2 separate regions of the Homo sapiens genome follow, and region 1 is linked to region 2. The links come from fine-mapping of genetic effects on plasma protein levels. A gene starts in region 2. The other region holds a variant in brackets. All regions are shown on one strand. Distances are from middle to middle.

Region 1 (8,523 bases), 120 kb before region 2:
CCAGATTTTTACTTTACCTATCCCTTTTTTTTGGTCTGAGCTGCAGTCAGAGATAGTTGGCTAGTTCACAGGAATAAGCAGGGTTAATCTAAAATGCAGAGAAAAACTTCAAAACAACCAATGAGAACCTATCCAAGTCCTATAACTGATTATAAACTATCCTTTGAAGAGAATAAATACAAGACAACAATTGCCTGTGGATGACAAAATGTCTTAGGTTAGTTCACAGTCAAAAACACAATTGACAAGGAAATTTGGTTATTTCTGTGGCTTACGGTAACTTAACATAATAATGCTATTTATGATTGCTAGCATATACTCAGACATTTGAATTTTAGAAATCCCATACAATTTTGGAACATACATTATCGTTTACTAAAATATAACTTAAACAAGATTAAACCTTATTTTTATTTGGAAAATCCCATGTAACTAAACATGTCAAATAATCCTATTTACCTCTTGTTTGAATGCTCCAGGGGCCCTCTGTAGCATCCCAAAATTAGGGGTCAGAAAAGATAATTATGAAGCTGAAATTTGATTTGGGGAAGCCTATCAAATACATTAAAGGTTTAAAACACTTGATATTATAAAAAGAATTCCAGATTACCATAAGTAATTTATTTAGCCAAAATGATGATTCAACATTTTTTTTTTTTTTTTTTTTTTTTGAGACGGAGTCTTGCTCTGTGGCCCAGGCTGGAATGCAGTTGCGCGATCCGTCTCACTGCAAGCTCCGCCTCCCAGGTTCACGCCATTCTCGTGCTTCAGCTTCCCAAGTAGCTGGGACTACAGGCACCTGCCACTACGCCCGGTTAATTTTTTGTATTTTTTAGTAGAGACAGGGTTTCACCGTGTTAGCCAGGATGGTCTTGATCTTCTGACCTTGTGATCCGCCCACCTAGGCCTCCCAAAGCTGGGATTACAGGCGTGAGCCACCGTGCCCAGCCGCTTCAACATTTTTTTGGAAAAGCAAAAACCTTTACTCATTACTAGGGCAGACTCAGCTTTCCAAACGATCTGTCTCTTGTCTTTTCCTTCTTTTTTCAGTAGTTTATTCACAAAACAAACTAAAATTTTTCAATATCCTTAACATTACATGAAAATCTTGTTCAAGAGAGATAGACAAATTTCACCCTTTATTTGTCTTTTAATGTCAATCCCAATTTTTTAATGAAAACTTATAGAAAAATCTATCCAATTTTAATCAGTTTGACCATGAGGTGAGATTCTTACAAACCTTTTATAACTCTTAACTAATTTTTGTTAAAGAGTATATCAGTGCCTTAAGAAACACTTGTGCTTTTATTCCAATGCTCAATTTATGGAAAAATCGAATAATACCCTTTTGAATTTAGTCAGTATGTTCACACACAGATTTTATTTTACAATATTAAGTTTTACAAACCTTCCCAACTCATTTAAACCTTTAGCTTTATCTTAATTAAAAATAATTATTTAACCCTCTACAGTAAGAAAAAATTTACATGTCTTCCTATAATCTTTTATTAAAAACACATTTTACTTACCTTAAACACCTTGCATGTAAATCTATTTTCAGTAGTCTCAATACATGTTAAATGGTAACTCTTAGCAATTTTTTAAATTTTGGTGTAAAACATGATAAGTTATTTTAATTATGTACTAGGTGCAGATAAGGCCTAACTCTTTCCAACATAGTCGGGGTGTGGTTAACTTCATATGTCCCCAGGCCTTACCAAGCTGAAAAGAAGGCAAGTCAAACAATTTTCAAAAGCCGAAGAAGCATTTCATGACCTTAAAGCCTTTAGCAACCCTAGTATCTGACCTGCATAATGTAGACCATATGTCTACTTTTTTTTTTTTTTTTTTTTTGAGGCAGAGTCTCACTCTGTTGCCCAGGCTGGAGTGCAGTGGCATGATCTTGGCTCACTGCAAGCTCCACCTCCCAGGTTCACACCATTCTCCTGCTTCAGCCTCCTAAGTAGCTGGGACTACAGGCACCCACAACCACGCCCGGCTACTTTTTTTTTTTTTTTTTTTTTTTTTTTTGCATATTAGTAGAGACGGGGTTTCACCGTGTTAGCCAGGATGGTCTCAGTCTCCTGACCTCGTGATCTGCCCGCCTCGGCCTCCCAAAGTGCTGGCATTACAGGAGTGAGCCACTGCAACTAGCCCATATGTCTACACTTTGAAGACATTTTTATTTTACCAATAATCTTTAAAGCTGTTTTTATTTCTCAAAGATTAAAGTCATGTGAACAAAAAGGCATTACAGCTTTATTTTTCTTTAAAAATATTTTATGCAAATGCTTATTTTTTCCTTAAACCAGTCAATTAAAGCTCTTTTTTTTTATATAAGCACCACACATAGAACACATACATAACTACAGAGAAAGAAGATCCAGTAGTTGTTAGATTTTCATTTGCCCATCTAATTTTATTTACTGGCCTCAGGGTGGAGCCCTTTAAGAAACAGGGCTATGAAACCATGCAGTATCTAGGGCCTAATAAGCAGGCATAGTTGGAAGACAAAAACAGATTTTGAGATCTATCTGCCTCTAATTCCTGGGGTTCCATGAGAAAAACAGGTTTTTGTTTGTTTGTTTGTTTTTGTTTTTGTTTTTCTTTTTTTACAAAAATGGGGTCAGTGGCATCTCTTCTGTTCTTCCCAAGGAGTTCCAAACCATCAAAAGTTGTCTTAGGGCCTCTTATGTGTGCATTAGGAGTGGCAAGATGAAATGGAGAAAAATAATTAAGTTGGCTAAAAAGGAAAAAAAAATCCTTTTTCCAGAAAAACTAGATCCATTGAGAGAAAAGACATAAAGGTCTTTTATATATGCCTGATATGCCTGTAGCTTGGATATCCACTTTTAGTTAAGCTGACTTTTAACCATATAAATCCTTTTTATTTATTTATTTGAGATGGAGTCCTTTTCTGTTGCCCAGGCTGTAGTGCAGTGGCATGATCTCAGCTCATTACAACCTCCGCCTTCCAAGTTTAAGCAGTTCTCTGCCTCAGCCTCCTGAGTAGCTAAGATTACAAGCACCCACCACCATGCTCAACTAATTTTTGTATTTTTAGTAAAGATGGGGTTTCACCATCTTGGCCAGGCTGCTCTTGAACTGACGTCGTGATCCACCCACCTTGTCCTCCCAAAGTGCTGGAATTATAGGCGTGAGCCACCGCACCCGGCCAGAAATCCTTTTTTAAAAAGTCCTCTTAAATGTCTTATTAACCAGCCTTAGCCATGCCAAATGGCCAATATGGCTGGCTTTTGAGCCTTAACAAAATTAACCTCACAGGTAAAACTGATAAGCCTTACTGTAAAAGTTGTCCCTCTTCAAGAGATTGCTCAGTTAGATTTGTAATATCTTCTCAGTTTGGGGAATGCATCTGAGGGGAGTGTCCTGTGGTGTAGAGATGCAATTACCCATCCTCAAAGAGAAGACAGAAGAGGAAAAAAGGAAGAAAAAACCTTTTTTTTTTTCTTTTTCCAGAGTCTGAGGGTCAAAGGAGTTCCAGAGATTCGGGATGCACTTGAGAAGAGTGCAGGCTAAAGATGATTGGTTCCCCTTCTGGAAGAGAGGACAGAGGGGGAAAAGGCATTCTTTCCTCTCTCCAGAGTCTGAGGGTCAAGGGGGTCCCAGGGATTCAGGAAGCACTCGAAAAGAGTGCAGGCTGAAATGGTTGATTACCCATCTGGAAAGAGGGGGGAAATGGTTTCCATTTGTTCCTTTCTCTTTCAAGCCAATACACAGGGTACATGAGGGAGAGAAAAAAAAGACATCACCTTCTTTATTTTGACATTATATCCCTAAGTCCCGGCAACCTTTGCACATGCCACTTTCACCCATGTAGCAGGGAGGCCTAGTGGATAAGAATATTTGCACTTACCTTTATGCTGCCCTATTCTCCCATTGTCAGTCACCTTTGAGTTCCCTAGACCTTATCTATGCCATGGATGCAACATGACCTCCATCCAGAAGTGGAAGGCCCTAATGGTAGGAATTAGTCATGCTCACCTGCACTGTGCCTCCTGACTTGCACTTTCATCTGCCTCTGGATACCTCAGGTTTAGCTTTCCCTTTGTACGGACTCATTAAATTAAGTCCCAGGTAGCCCTTACCAAATTGCAGCCAGTAATTGGTGGGGCAGCCGAGGCCACTCTTTCATTTCTTCCCTATCATAAGCAGAATGCTAAAGTAAAACTGTGAAACGAGGTCCCCTTCAAACCAAGGAAAGAAAGGGAGTCCTGGGAATTTAGGACTGGGCCTAATAAGATGTCTCTCAAAAGGAAAAAAAAAAAAATCTCTTGCGTAGAAAAGCTCCCCCAATGCACTATGTTGACTGCTTACATGGTGGAGGAAAAAGAAAAAAAAAATAAAAAAGAAAAAACTGAAGTGCAGGGAAGGGGAAGGTGCCCAGGGGAAAGCCTCTTTCCCTATGGAAATGGCTTCCTTCAACAGGGGAAAGAAAAGTCTCAGTTGTTACATTCTCCTTGCTTCTAACAATAGACAGATACCACATTACATTCTTCTGATTTACATTCCTGATCACTAAGCCAAGCGCTTATTATTTTTTCTTTTTTCTTTCTGTCTTTTTTGTTTTCTTTTTTTTTTTTTTTTTTTTGAGATGGAGTCTCACTCTATTGCCCAGGCTGGAGTGCAGTTGTGCTATCTTGGCTCACTGCAACCTCCACCTCCCAGGTTCAAGCGATTCTTGTGCATCAGCCTCCCAAATAGCTGGGACTGCAGGTGCCTGCCACCATTCCCTGCTCATTTTTTGTATTTTTAGTAGACATGGGGTTTCACCATGTTGGCCAGACTGGTCTCGAACTCCTAACCTCAGGTGATCTGCCCACCTCGGCCTCCCAAAGTTCTGAGATTACAGGTGTGAGCCACCATGGCGGGCTTCCAAGTGCTTATTCTAGCCAGTAATATTTTCTCTGAGGTACCCTTAACATTGTATATAAAAAAGAGAATAGTAGCCATTATAGTCAGAGAAGAA[AGAAAG/A]GAAAGGAAAGGAAAGAAAGAAAGGCAGGCAGGAAGGAAGGAAGGAAGGGAGAGAAAGAAAGAGAGAGAGAAAGAAAGAGAGAATGAGACAAAAAGTGTGATAGGAAAGACTGAGGGCCCTAGTGCTGACACCCTAATGGGCAGTTGGGGATGGGAGTTAGTCCAGGGGCCTTTGGATAACACTAAGGTGTAGCCTCAGTCAGATATCTGCAGTTGCCCCAGGACCTCCTTCCAGTCTCAAGTGACAGCTAAATTTTTGTGAAGGGAAACCGGATTGGCAAAAGGCCAACATTCCCAAGACCCAAGAGTGACAAGTGATTGACAGTGTACCCCCAGCAAGCCTGTCCTCTGTGTCTTAAGTCCAGCAACCACACTTGTTGCTTTTAGTTGGCTGAACAGAGGCCCATGTTTTTCTTTCATTCTGGCTAGTGTGTAGTTTATTGACTCCAAAAAAAAAAAAAAAGGATGGAAAGCAGCAAGTCCTCTTTTACTCACTCTCCTGAAGATCCCAGAAAAGCACCTCCAAAAATGTCAGGGGATCCTTGGGGTGTCACTTTGCCAACAAGAAACCTTGGTAGCCAGTGGTGCCTTCTGCTTGAGTGTTGCTCAGGCCCTCTGGGCTTGTTCCACCCACTTGGCCCAGTAGGCTGCACTCAGTTTACGCTACCGGACCGGATCCCTTGCCTGCCAAGGGTGAGCCAGGAGTGAAGCAGTTAGGGATGTGTGAGCAAGGGTGGGGTCTGGTCACTGCACACAGCCAGGCATGCTGGCTGTAGCAGGGCAGGCAGCTCCAGGCCCCTGCTCCATGCAAGGCTGTGGCTGGACCACGAGTACCACAATTGGCTTCCACTTCTAGCACCGGGAAACACAGTGGTACCCAGAAGCTTGGAAATGCCAGGAACCACAGAGCCTCAAAGAGGGTGTTGCAGCCCTGGCTAGGGAAGACCCTAGGTCTAGGATCCCCAAAAGCTGCAGTTCTTCTCTCCTTCTTGACACCTGTAACATGGTGAGGTGGGGCATGTTTCAGCCCCGTTTGTGTTACAACTCTTTCAGTCCTGCTATTCAGCAAGTCCCAAATTCTTGTCCCGTGTCCAGGAAGAATGAGGTCTGTGAACAACTGGAGGGGAAGCAAGGCAGTAGAGGAGCTTCATTGAGCAACAGAACAGCTCTTAGGATACCTGAAGTAGCTGACTCCTTTCCATAGGCAGGTCGTCCAGATAAGTGTCCAGTTCTCAGCAGAGAGGAGACTTGTAGTGAGTAGCTCCTTTCCTTAGGCAGGTCATCCTAACGAGTGTCCAGTTCTCAGCAGAGAGAAGACCTGCTGCAGTTGATAGCTCCTTCCCACAGCTGGTAGTCCTAACGTCTCTGTGAGTGTAGCTGATTCCAGGGTTTTTATGGGCTTCAGAAGGGAGGAAGTGCATGCTGATTAGTCCATGGGTGGCCATGGGCAAGCCTGGAAAAAGCACCGTAAGTTCTCACTCTGAGCCATGGACTCCACCTGGAACTGACAGCCTGGACCCCAGATTTCAAGCCATCCCTGGCTTGAAGGTCTGGCTTTACCGGGGACCTGCCCCTTTTCTTGTCTGCCTCCTGTCATCATTAATCATGTTGTCCAGGCACCCAGGCTGTTTGTGCTGAGGGGTGCATTCAGGCCTACACTGAGCTTCCCTCAGGGCCCCCTTGGCCTTCCTCCCATGTTCATTGGTGATCAAAGTCCAGAGGGGGCTGAGGTGGGAGGGGGCTGGCATTTCAGCACTGCCCCAAGTGCAAGCACACCTTGCCAGGTTGCAACAGCACCCACGCTTGGCCTCAACTTGGCTCCAAAATCAGAGTAGGCACTGGGGGTGGGGAGAGGCCAGGCGTGGGGAGCAGGCACTTCCAAGCCCGTGAGTGAAGGGGGCTTCACAGTCTTCAAGAGCCCAAGGATGTCCAGGTCCACCAGGGCAACTGGGCAGCTGCAGCTGCACCCGGGAGGGAAGGGCTCCTGCCCCACCAACTAGGAAGGGAGCAGAGATTCCACCTGTTTCTGACTCCTGCCAGATCCATGGAGCATGCTGCCAGCTGTGCCTCCCCTGCTGCAGCCGGCATCTTTGCAGCAGTTGATCCAGGTGGGCTGCTGCTGCCAGTCAATTACACTTTTGGATAAATCCTCAATGTAGGCTCCTCCCAGTAAATTATATTCACCATGTAAGACTTCCGTGATTTTACTTACCATTAACTTCACTTTCATGCATTAATTGATTCATTTGGTCAACAAAATATTATTGACATCTAACAAATGAAGCTGTGCTGTATGCTGCATATACAGATATTGCTGATAAAGAGTTAAGTGAAGGAAGTACTTACAGGTTACTAAGGACTGAAGGTGGTGTTTTTCAAAAAAAATCTCAAACCAAAAGCAAAATTATTAAAGAAGTAATATGCTATAATCCCAGAAGATGGATGTAGAAAGAAGAAATCTGAGTGGAATAAAGGACCTTCTACCACCAATATCAGTCAATCCAATAATCAGCAAATATTCTTTTAAGAACTTTCTGTTTTCAAGACTCAATATATAAAACTATCTCTGTTTTTGTGGAACTTACAGCTCTTTAACGGTTGAGGCAGACATGAATAAAATAATCACAAACATAACATTACAGCAGAGTAAGATCTGTGAAAATAAGTCTCACAGTGCCATGAGATAAGGGAAAGACATACTAGGATCAGGGAAGATTTCCTGAAGAAATTAAACTTTGATACAAAGAAATAGAAAATAAACAGATAAATGAAGAGAAAATGAATCTAAGACAGAGGAAGGAACATTTAAAAGGTCCAGTGGTAAAGGCTGAAGTTAACTTGTGTGACTGAAAGAAGACCAGTGTGGTAGAACACATAAACTAATAGTAATATAGAATAATGCCGGATTTTATTAAATTCTTTTATTAAAAACTTAAGCATTTTAAGTAAGGATCTTGGGCTAATTAGAATCTTTTTTAACCAATTGCCATGGTAGAAATGGACAAGAGTTGATAAAGAGGGACAAGTTAGTAGATGTGCCCTGCCGTTGCCCCCATAGATGATTGACATTGCTTGCTCTAGGGAGGAGAATGTGGAATTAAAGAGGGTGGATCCTAGAGATCTGTAAAAGGTAGTATCACAAGAATTTGCTGATGGATATGGAAGATGAGAGAATATGATGTGTTAAAAATGATATATAGTATTCTATTTTGAGAAAGTGGATATAAGCTAATGTTATTTAGAGCTAAGTACCAATTAAAAAGAATCAGGATTGCTTGAAGCGTGTAGGAGTTTCATTTTGGATATGTATGGTAAAAGTGATATTCCTTGAATTATGAAACATTTCTTACTCCTGGGGTGAAAGTGGTAGTAGTACTCAAGTAAGAGACAACAGGAAATTGGTAGTAGCTTGGAATAGATGATAAATGCCTATTTCTTAACAAGGAGGGGTTTTACCGGAGATAAGTTGAAGGATGGTGGCAAGCATTTCACAAAGTAATATTTGGGAATGTTGGATTTATGTAGCAA
Region 2 (8,523 bases):
TACAGGTGTATGGCACCACACCCAGGTAATTTTTGTATTTTAGTAGAGATGGGGTTTTACCATGTTGGCCAGGCTGGTCTCGAACTCCTGACCTCAAGTGATCCACTTACCTCGGCCTCCCAAAGAGCTGGGATTACAGGCATGAGCCACCGCGCCCGGCCATAGAAGAACTAATGTGTTTATATAACTAAAATAGTCAATTACAAATACTGATTCTCATTCACATAATAATAACAAAGATCCATTAATGTACAAAGCCTTCCCTTTATTTTTTCTCATGCTGTAATTAGGTTGCTGAAATCCAACCTACACAACCAATAAACGAATCCTACAAATACTAAGCATTTGTATTAGTTTTGTCTTTGTTTATTTAATTTAGATTTTCTCAAAGAAAGAGAATAAATAACTATTCTAATGCCTATGTCCCAGACGTAGGGTATCATATTTCAAATCAGCCTAATTCACCAATGGTCATAGGATATCTAGTGACCTACAAGTATTTTTTATCCCAATAAATATCTCAATTTATTAATCCATGGTCTGGAGCATTTGGTTCAGGGCTTGATACTTAATGGATATATCTATTTCTATATCTAATTCTAACAATATTCATATGTATATGCATATATATTTACATATAAAATGACTGCTATAATAATAAGGTTTTAAAAAAATCAAGCCACAAGATTATTATTTTTTCAGTTCTGTTTGGTACAATTAGATGTGTGCTAAGATCAATAAAACATAATTAAAATATATTTTTAGCAGCATTTCTACATTCATGATATTTAGGTACTATTATATATAATTTAGGTACTATTATATAATGTATCCTTGTCATATGCCATTTATTGACAGGGATACATTCTAAGAAATGCATTGTTAGGCGATCTAATCATTGTGCACACATTATAAGTGTACTCACGCAAACTTAGATGCCATAGCCTACCACACCTTTAGGCTATATGGTATAGGCTGTTGCATCTAGGCTACAAATCTGTATAACATGTTCCTGAATACTGTAGGCAATTGTTAGAAAATGGTAACTGTATGTGTATGTAAACAGAGAAAAGGTACAGTGAAAATACTATATTATAATTGTATAAGACCACCATTATTGATTGAAGCATCATTATGTATTGTATGACTGTATCATAAATCACAGTAAATAAATAAGTAAAATATAACAATGACTTAAAGTTTCCTGTTACCTGACACTAATAACATTTCAGACATAATCAAAGTTTTAGAGGCACTCTACTGCTTCAGTTCTTTTTTCTTTCTGATAACCGCTAATCCTTTTCTCTTTAATAAATGCAGGAGAGCATCTGGAGAAAAACAAAGTGCTAGTATGATTTTTTTTATTTTCTGTTTTGAAAACATCCTCTGGGAAGAAAAAGTGAATAAGGTGCAAAGCTGATTGGGCGGTTCGTTCTAAGCTGCAATTTAATAAATTAATTGCATCATCCCTGGTTGTACCCATTCTCCCTCTTGCCTAGCTCAGTCAATGTTCTTCTAAGTCTAATGCAAAAGCCATCTATTTTTTCCTTGATTTTATTTGAATATTAGTTTGTCTTTAGAAACCAAACACCAAATTGAAATAAATTTTGGTCTCTGATAGTTTTCAAACTTGTTCTACAAACAGTTTATATTATTGCAAAGCAAGTACTATAGTTGCTACAAAACTGTATTTGTGTTTTGTGTAATTATGAAATGTGATGTTTCATTGTTTATGTTAAACAGTTGCTATAACATCTAAATGGTTGTAATATCTTCCCATGTCACTTAACTTGATTTAATACAAAATTTATTATATGTTGATATTTATATTTTATGCTGAGTAGGTCTTGTTATATAATAATATGGTATGAATTAAAATCTTTAATTTTTCGATAATGATATCTGAGTTATCAACTTGCAAATAATGTAATTGGTAACAATCAAAGCAATTCTTGTAAGCATGCATTCATTGCAAAAATGACAATATAATGCTAACTCATATGTATTGTTGCAGAGTGTCATATGACATATTATTTAATGTGTACTTTAATATAAAAATATGCAGATGTTCATATACTGTTAGTGTATTGTAGGCTAATGTTTTTATATTTAATTGCAGTACTTTATTTTTTAAATAAGCATCACTTTGCCCTTTTTATAATCTGGTATTATCTATTCTAACATGCTACTCTGTAGTTTTGCCATTAAAAGACTTTAAAAATTTTGATATGTTTATCATGTAATTGAGCAATCGAAAGAGAAATAAATGAAAATAGAATAAAAATATTGAGTCTATATCTCAAAATTTTTATTAATGATTAGGATATTCAACAAAACATTATCGTTTTTCTTTTTTTTAATTTTATTATTATTATACTTTAAGTTTTAGGGTACATGTGCACAACGTGCAGGTTTGATCGTTTTTCTTTTAATAAATTCTGGTGCAATTGGATACTGTCTCACATGATTCTGAGAGAACATAGTAGCATAAACATTATCATAAAAATGGGGCACATTTTCACAAATACAGCTGTGTATCTGAATTTAGATCAATTTGCTTATCAAAATAGTATTTAATATTGGAAATAAAGACAGGAGTTTTTGTTTGGAATTCAGACCATTCTAGTTTTTGAGGAATTGAGTTTTTGAGGAATTTGAGTTTTTGAGGAACTGAGTTTTTGTTTGGAATTAAGAAAATTTACTGGCAATTTTTGAAAATGCTAAACTGTTATAACAATAACTTTCAAATAAAAAAGGTGACAAATCTTTTTTTGTATTTTTAATTCAATTTTGAAAGTACTATTAATATTCCCTAGCTGATTTTAACAAAAAATACTAAATGTTATACTATAAGATGTGAGTGTGATAAAATAATTTGTATAAAGAGCTATTTTTTGGGATACTTGAATATCAACCAGATTTTCAAAATAAGGGACAAGCCAAGAATTTTTAAAAGATGTTCAAGCAAATATTCAAAATATTTTCCCTGTGTATAATTTCCCTATCTTTTAAAAAGTTACAATTAAATAAATATTTATTTCTACTTGGAAATAAACCCTCTTAAAATGGTAGAGAAAGAGCCATCTAGATAATATTAATATGATCTAGAACAAGCTCTCTTAAATGTATTTGAAGAAATTGGAACAACGACGTCTTTATATCAAACTTAAAAAGCTTGTTTTGTTGCAGACTAAGTGAAGTGGGGAATTGAGGAAGTCTGATTATAAATAGACTACATCACTGTCTTTCAGGGATTCTTCAGCTATGCTTTAGGCATGTATACATATAGAAGACACTACATTAGATATAAGAAACTTAAGATGTTTTATCTGTCCTCAATTAGGAAGAACATTTGCAAACTTCATTGTGTGAATAATTTGAACATTTATTAGAGAGATTTCTTGAGTCTTCTCTGAAAATTAAATCTCCTCTTAGGTTGCTATCTATTCAATTACAATTCTCTTAACATCTGGGACCGTCTAATTTTGGTAAGAATGAGCAGATGCTGGCAAGAAACCATCGAAATGAAGATAATATTCAATGTAAATATATATTATACTTATCAAGAAATGACTCGAAGAAGGAACCAAATTTATAGATAAGATGTGACTTGTTTAGCTATTAGTAGCTTATGTTTTATAAAAATGAAATATGGAATACATCCCAAACATATTTTTACAATTAAAAAACTAGGACAATACAAACAAACAACAACAACAAAAAATTAGGAGAACAAAACAGAACTTTGATAACCCAATTAGAAATTTATTTGGCATCCAAAAGACTACTTTATTTTATATCCAGAGAAAATTCTGAAGATTTTTATTCAAATGTTAAAGTCACACTTTAAAAGCTCACGCTTATCCTTAAACAAAGTAACTACTTATATAAGTAAACTGTCATTGTATTTATTGTAACTATGAGATAGTTTATATTAAGGAAGGCATTACACAGACTAGTGACAGGAGCTCCTAATTGAGTTTATTATCATGAAATATATTCATAAAAATGTAGAAGACATACTCATAAAATAAAAATATATAATAAATAGAAATCATAAACAATGAAATCACATTTCAGTTTACTTTTAGTCATTCATAGATTTTATAATCCTTAATATTTAATTCCCTGGTTAAAGTGGAACTGATGTTATCAAAATAATAGTTTTACAAGATTATAGGATGAGCAGAAAGTACATTTGCTTACTATTTCTATAATAGTAAAATAATAGCAAATGTAAAATATTTTGCTACAATTTAAACAAACATATAAAAAGTGAACACAAAGGGCAAAGGGGACACGCTCATAAATCACTGTAAATCAAATTAGAAAACAGGTTTTGTTTTTATTTACATAAAATAAACAGACCTCTCATTTGCCAGTTGTTACTGTTAAAGTTTTAGGTGACAAAATGTTGATTGAGAAAAGTATTTTGTTCAGGAAAAAGTAAGTTAACTACTAACTTTATCCCATTTAAAAAGAAAAAAAAAGGAAGACTAATCAAAGATTACTTTTACAGAGAGATTCAATAAACAATGCATTTAAGGGTAAGCCAGTATGAAATGTTTTTTCTTAGGAAACTCACTAAGAATATATATCACAGTGATTCCACACGTGCTATGGTCCTTTATACAGAGTTGAATAAATTCATTATTTTCTCAGCAGTTAAATAAACAAAGTCTGCGTTCCCTGAATAATAGGAAGATTTGATGCATGTGCCTGCTGGCTCACTTCCTCTGTCCCATTTGCAAGCTTCAGTAACTGTTCCCCACAGAGCACCAAAGGGACACAACAAACACATGAAGAGATCACTCTCATCCCACAGAATGAGCTTTACAGTAACTTGGATCTCTACACGAAGGTGTAAATTCAGAGCAACTTACCCGATTCTCTGCAACAAAGATGGCAAAGTTTGCAAGGAGTGAAAATCATGTAATACTTCGGGGAAATGCAGGATGCAGCTGCTGCTCCAGCCTGTAAATTGGACTGCACTGACATTCAGTGTTACTGAATGTAACAATCAACTGTTACTGACAAAGCTCGCGAGAGTTGGCAGCAGCAACTTGAAATCTGTTCAGAGGCTAATGGTATAAATGCAATAGTGATTCATTTACAGAAGTATTACAGGATTCATGCTTTACAATTGCAGGTAGTCTTCTAAGAATGAAGAAAAAAAGCATAGAAGATTCTTTAACTAAAATAATCTGAAATGTAACAGAAAATGCATGTTTCTTTTAACTCTAAACTTTAAAAAAATTTTCCTTTTTTTAAGAATATACATATTTCCTATGCTTGTCTTAAGATTTAAAGACGTATACATCATTCTAAAGTAGTGCTATTATTGAAATCCATTATAGCTTCAATCTGTGCTAATTATATAGTTAGAGAAGATAGTAATATAGAAAATAAGAAACACAATGCTCTAGATATAAGCTATGCAAATCAAAAACTTAGTTCTATTAACTGAATGGATGTCTCTGATATGTATCTCCTTTCAACCCCCACACTTCAACACTTATTTAAGTCATACAAATTTCAGCATTGGTAATTTCCTATTCAGAAGACCCTGCAGGCAGTCATACATGATGAGAAGCCACAATTTTCTGGTCAAGACAGGAAAAATAAAATGAATAACCTTCACCAAACTCTATAAAAGAGACACATTTGTCAACTTGCAGTGCACATGCTCTGGAGAATATATTTATGTCTTTGGCGCTTATCTTTCTTGAAATGATGTTCAGGAAAATAATTTTTTAAAAAACCTTTGATAAACTCCTTAATCCCTATCTTCTCAATGCAATATATTCTTAATCTTCTGTAAGTGATAGCTTTCACTTTTGAATCTCTTACTTGTGGGCTTTCTATGGACTAAACAGAAGGCATGTATTAATATTTGCAGGTGAGCACTTTTTTGCCTTTTAATAGAGTGTTAAATTTTCAAACAAGCAAATATAATTAGCATTTGTTGTAATTCTACCTTATGCCAGTCATTATAATTGACAATTTATATTAAATATTTTATATTATTTCAGCAAATATGAGAGTTAATATTATTAACCACCTCATCAGATGAGAAAGCTAAGGTTTCTACAAATCAGAAGCTTACTATATTTCTTACCACTAGTAGCTGTTGGAAAACAGAATTTTAATCTGTATTATTCTGTTATTTTATGTCAACTGCTTCCAAGAGAATAACCATTTTGGTCTTTTAAAATTATCTTTTCTGTGAAAATTGCTACTTAGGCAGTGTTAATTCAATGATAAATATCATGATCACAATAATTTATAATGTATTTAGAATATAGTTTATGTAATAACAAGTTAGTTACACAAAAGGTACAGAATACATAATCTATCTGAAAAGGAGAAAAAGGAGGTGGAGCACAGTGGTTCATGACTGTAATCCCAACATTTTAGGAGGCCTAAGTGGGCGGATTGCTTCAGTCTGGGAGTTCAAGACAAGTCTGGACAACATAGCAAAACTCAATTTCTGCAAGAAAATGGGTCAGACATGGTGGTGCAAGCCTACATTCCCAGTTACTTGGGAGGTAGCTGAGGTAAGAGTATCACCTGAGCCTAGGAGGTCGAGGCTGCAAGCCACGATTGTGCCACTGCACTTCATCGTGGGTGACAGAGTGAGATCCTGTCTCAAAAAAAAATTAATCAATAAATCAATAAAAGCAGGAAAAGGCTTTTTAAATGGAAGTATATTGACAAATTTGCAATGGTTTTTATAGTGATGGCATTTCTGTTTAAAATATAGTAAATCTGATGTTCCACATGAGAGTTCATGGGTTCAATATACATGATTTTTAAAAATCCAAATGTCAAAATTCTTCTCTCCAACCCAAGTCCACTGCATTGTTTCCTGTGCTAGCATAAGGTCAGCCTATCAAACGCGGCAATTATTAAGGAATATTTTGTGACGTTAGTGAATTCAGCAAAGCATTTTACATGCTTCCTGCATCTACTCACTGCTAGGTAAAATATGTCACATATATACACATATTTCATTTTCATCTTTAAACAGGAAGCCAAACAATAAAATAATTGGTTTCAAGCAGATCTTTATCTTTAACGCATGTTTAAACTGGCTAACTAGCAACATCAACTGATTACACAAGTTGGCAATTTTTCTTCTTCTCAATGTCTTTACTTCAAAGAACCACCTTCTGTTACTGTCCCTGTAGTTCTTTTCCTCGCATGATTTCACAGCTATGCCACATTAGTTCATTCATTATTTTAGTGCACCTCTAAAGCATTTATTCTTCCTGTCTTGAGAGTTTCTTCCTTGTGGCTCAACTTACAGCAGCTGCTTTGCTTCTGTGGTGTCATCATTTTCTCACACTCATCCAGCGGAAGGATGTAGGTCACACACAGTGAGCTTGTTTCAGGGTTAGTAGGGAAGCACTATTCCATTACATCACAGCATGGATGGTTAATGATCCTGCTGTTAAATGTTGAGTATGCCTTGTAAGCGACACTGATGAAATACCACAAGACACTTGACACGGCATTAACACTGCGCACATTTTGCAACCATATATGCTGAAGCTTGGGCAGGACAATCATTATGGTTTTGGCTCTATGATCACTTTCAGTTAGCCAGTCACAGTGGTTTTTTGCTTTTAAGGTCCCATTGTAACTCAGTTACCACTGTTTTCTAGATAGCAGCATTCAGTAAGATTTGAGATGGTGTGAAAAACATTAATCCTGTATTATACATTAGTTTTCCTTAGGCATACTGATGCCAAAAAAGTGCTCTAAACTTATATTAATTTTATTCATTTTTTTTACAATAGCACTGCATTCTCTGAAATGAATATGGATAACAAAGAAAAGTATATATAAGTATAGATAGATAGATAGATAGATAGATAGATAGATAGATAGATAGATAGATAGATTTTTTTTTTTTTTTCCTGAGATGGAGTCTCACTCTGTCGCCCAGGCTGGAGTGCAGTGGCAGGATCTCGGCTCACTGCAACCTCTGCCTCCTGGGTTCAAGCAATTTTCCTGCCTCAGCCTCCTGAGTAGCTGGGATTACAGGCACCCACCACCAAATCTGGCTAATTTTTGTATTTTTAGTAGACACAGGATTTCACTATGTTGGCCAGGCTGGTCTCGAATTCCTGACCTCAGGTGCTCCACCAACCTCGGCCTCCCAAAGTGCTGGGATTATAGGTGTGAGCTACTGCATCCAGCCCAGAAAAGTATATTTCTACATTTTACATATCACAGAGAATGAAAAGACCATTTTGTATATTCCAATCAATTTTTTAAAATATGTGTATGTGGTTATAGTTACATAGATAAATATAGTGGTAGTCAAATGGCTTATCATCATTCTTCTTGCTTTTTATCTTATGATATTAATTTCCTATTAAAATATTTTGATTACTGTGTGATATATTATCATATGGGCATATTATGGTTCATTGTATCTCTTGTTACTTATATGATGATAATAATAATTTTAGGTAATAAATATTATTTGAAAGCACTATTCTATCCACTTTGAAT

Alleles and levels. Alleles are on the strand shown, and positions count from the first base shown. The strength of an association depends on the size of the effect and on how common the allele is.
In carriers of allele A in region 1, the plasma level of the protein whose gene starts at base 4,993 in region 2 tends to be higher than with AGAAAG alone (strong association).

Evidence for each region. PIP is the chance, under the fine-mapping model, that this variant and not a neighbour inherited with it causes the effect. Protein levels are from antibody-based Olink assays in UK Biobank. Linkage for the fine-mapping came from a reference panel and not from the study's own genotypes, which makes the PIPs less certain.
Region 1: its variant is fine-mapped to the plasma level of the BCHE protein (UK Biobank, PIP above 0.99).

The regions. Positions count from the first base shown.
Region 1 is chr3:165,714,343-165,722,865 of GRCh38, forward strand. No RefSeq gene overlaps it. Among named protein-coding and RNA genes, the nearest start is that of BCHE, 120 kb to the right of the region's middle. RefSeq lists enhancers at 6,386-6,886, 6,887-7,387. The variant AGAAAG/A (reference allele first, on the strand shown) is at 4,991.
Region 2 is chr3:165,832,431-165,840,953 of GRCh38, forward strand. It overlaps BCHE (butyrylcholinesterase), which reads right to left and starts at 4,993. Exons shown (of 4, transcript NM_000055.4): 1 at 4,884-4,993. RefSeq lists an enhancer at 4,811-5,105.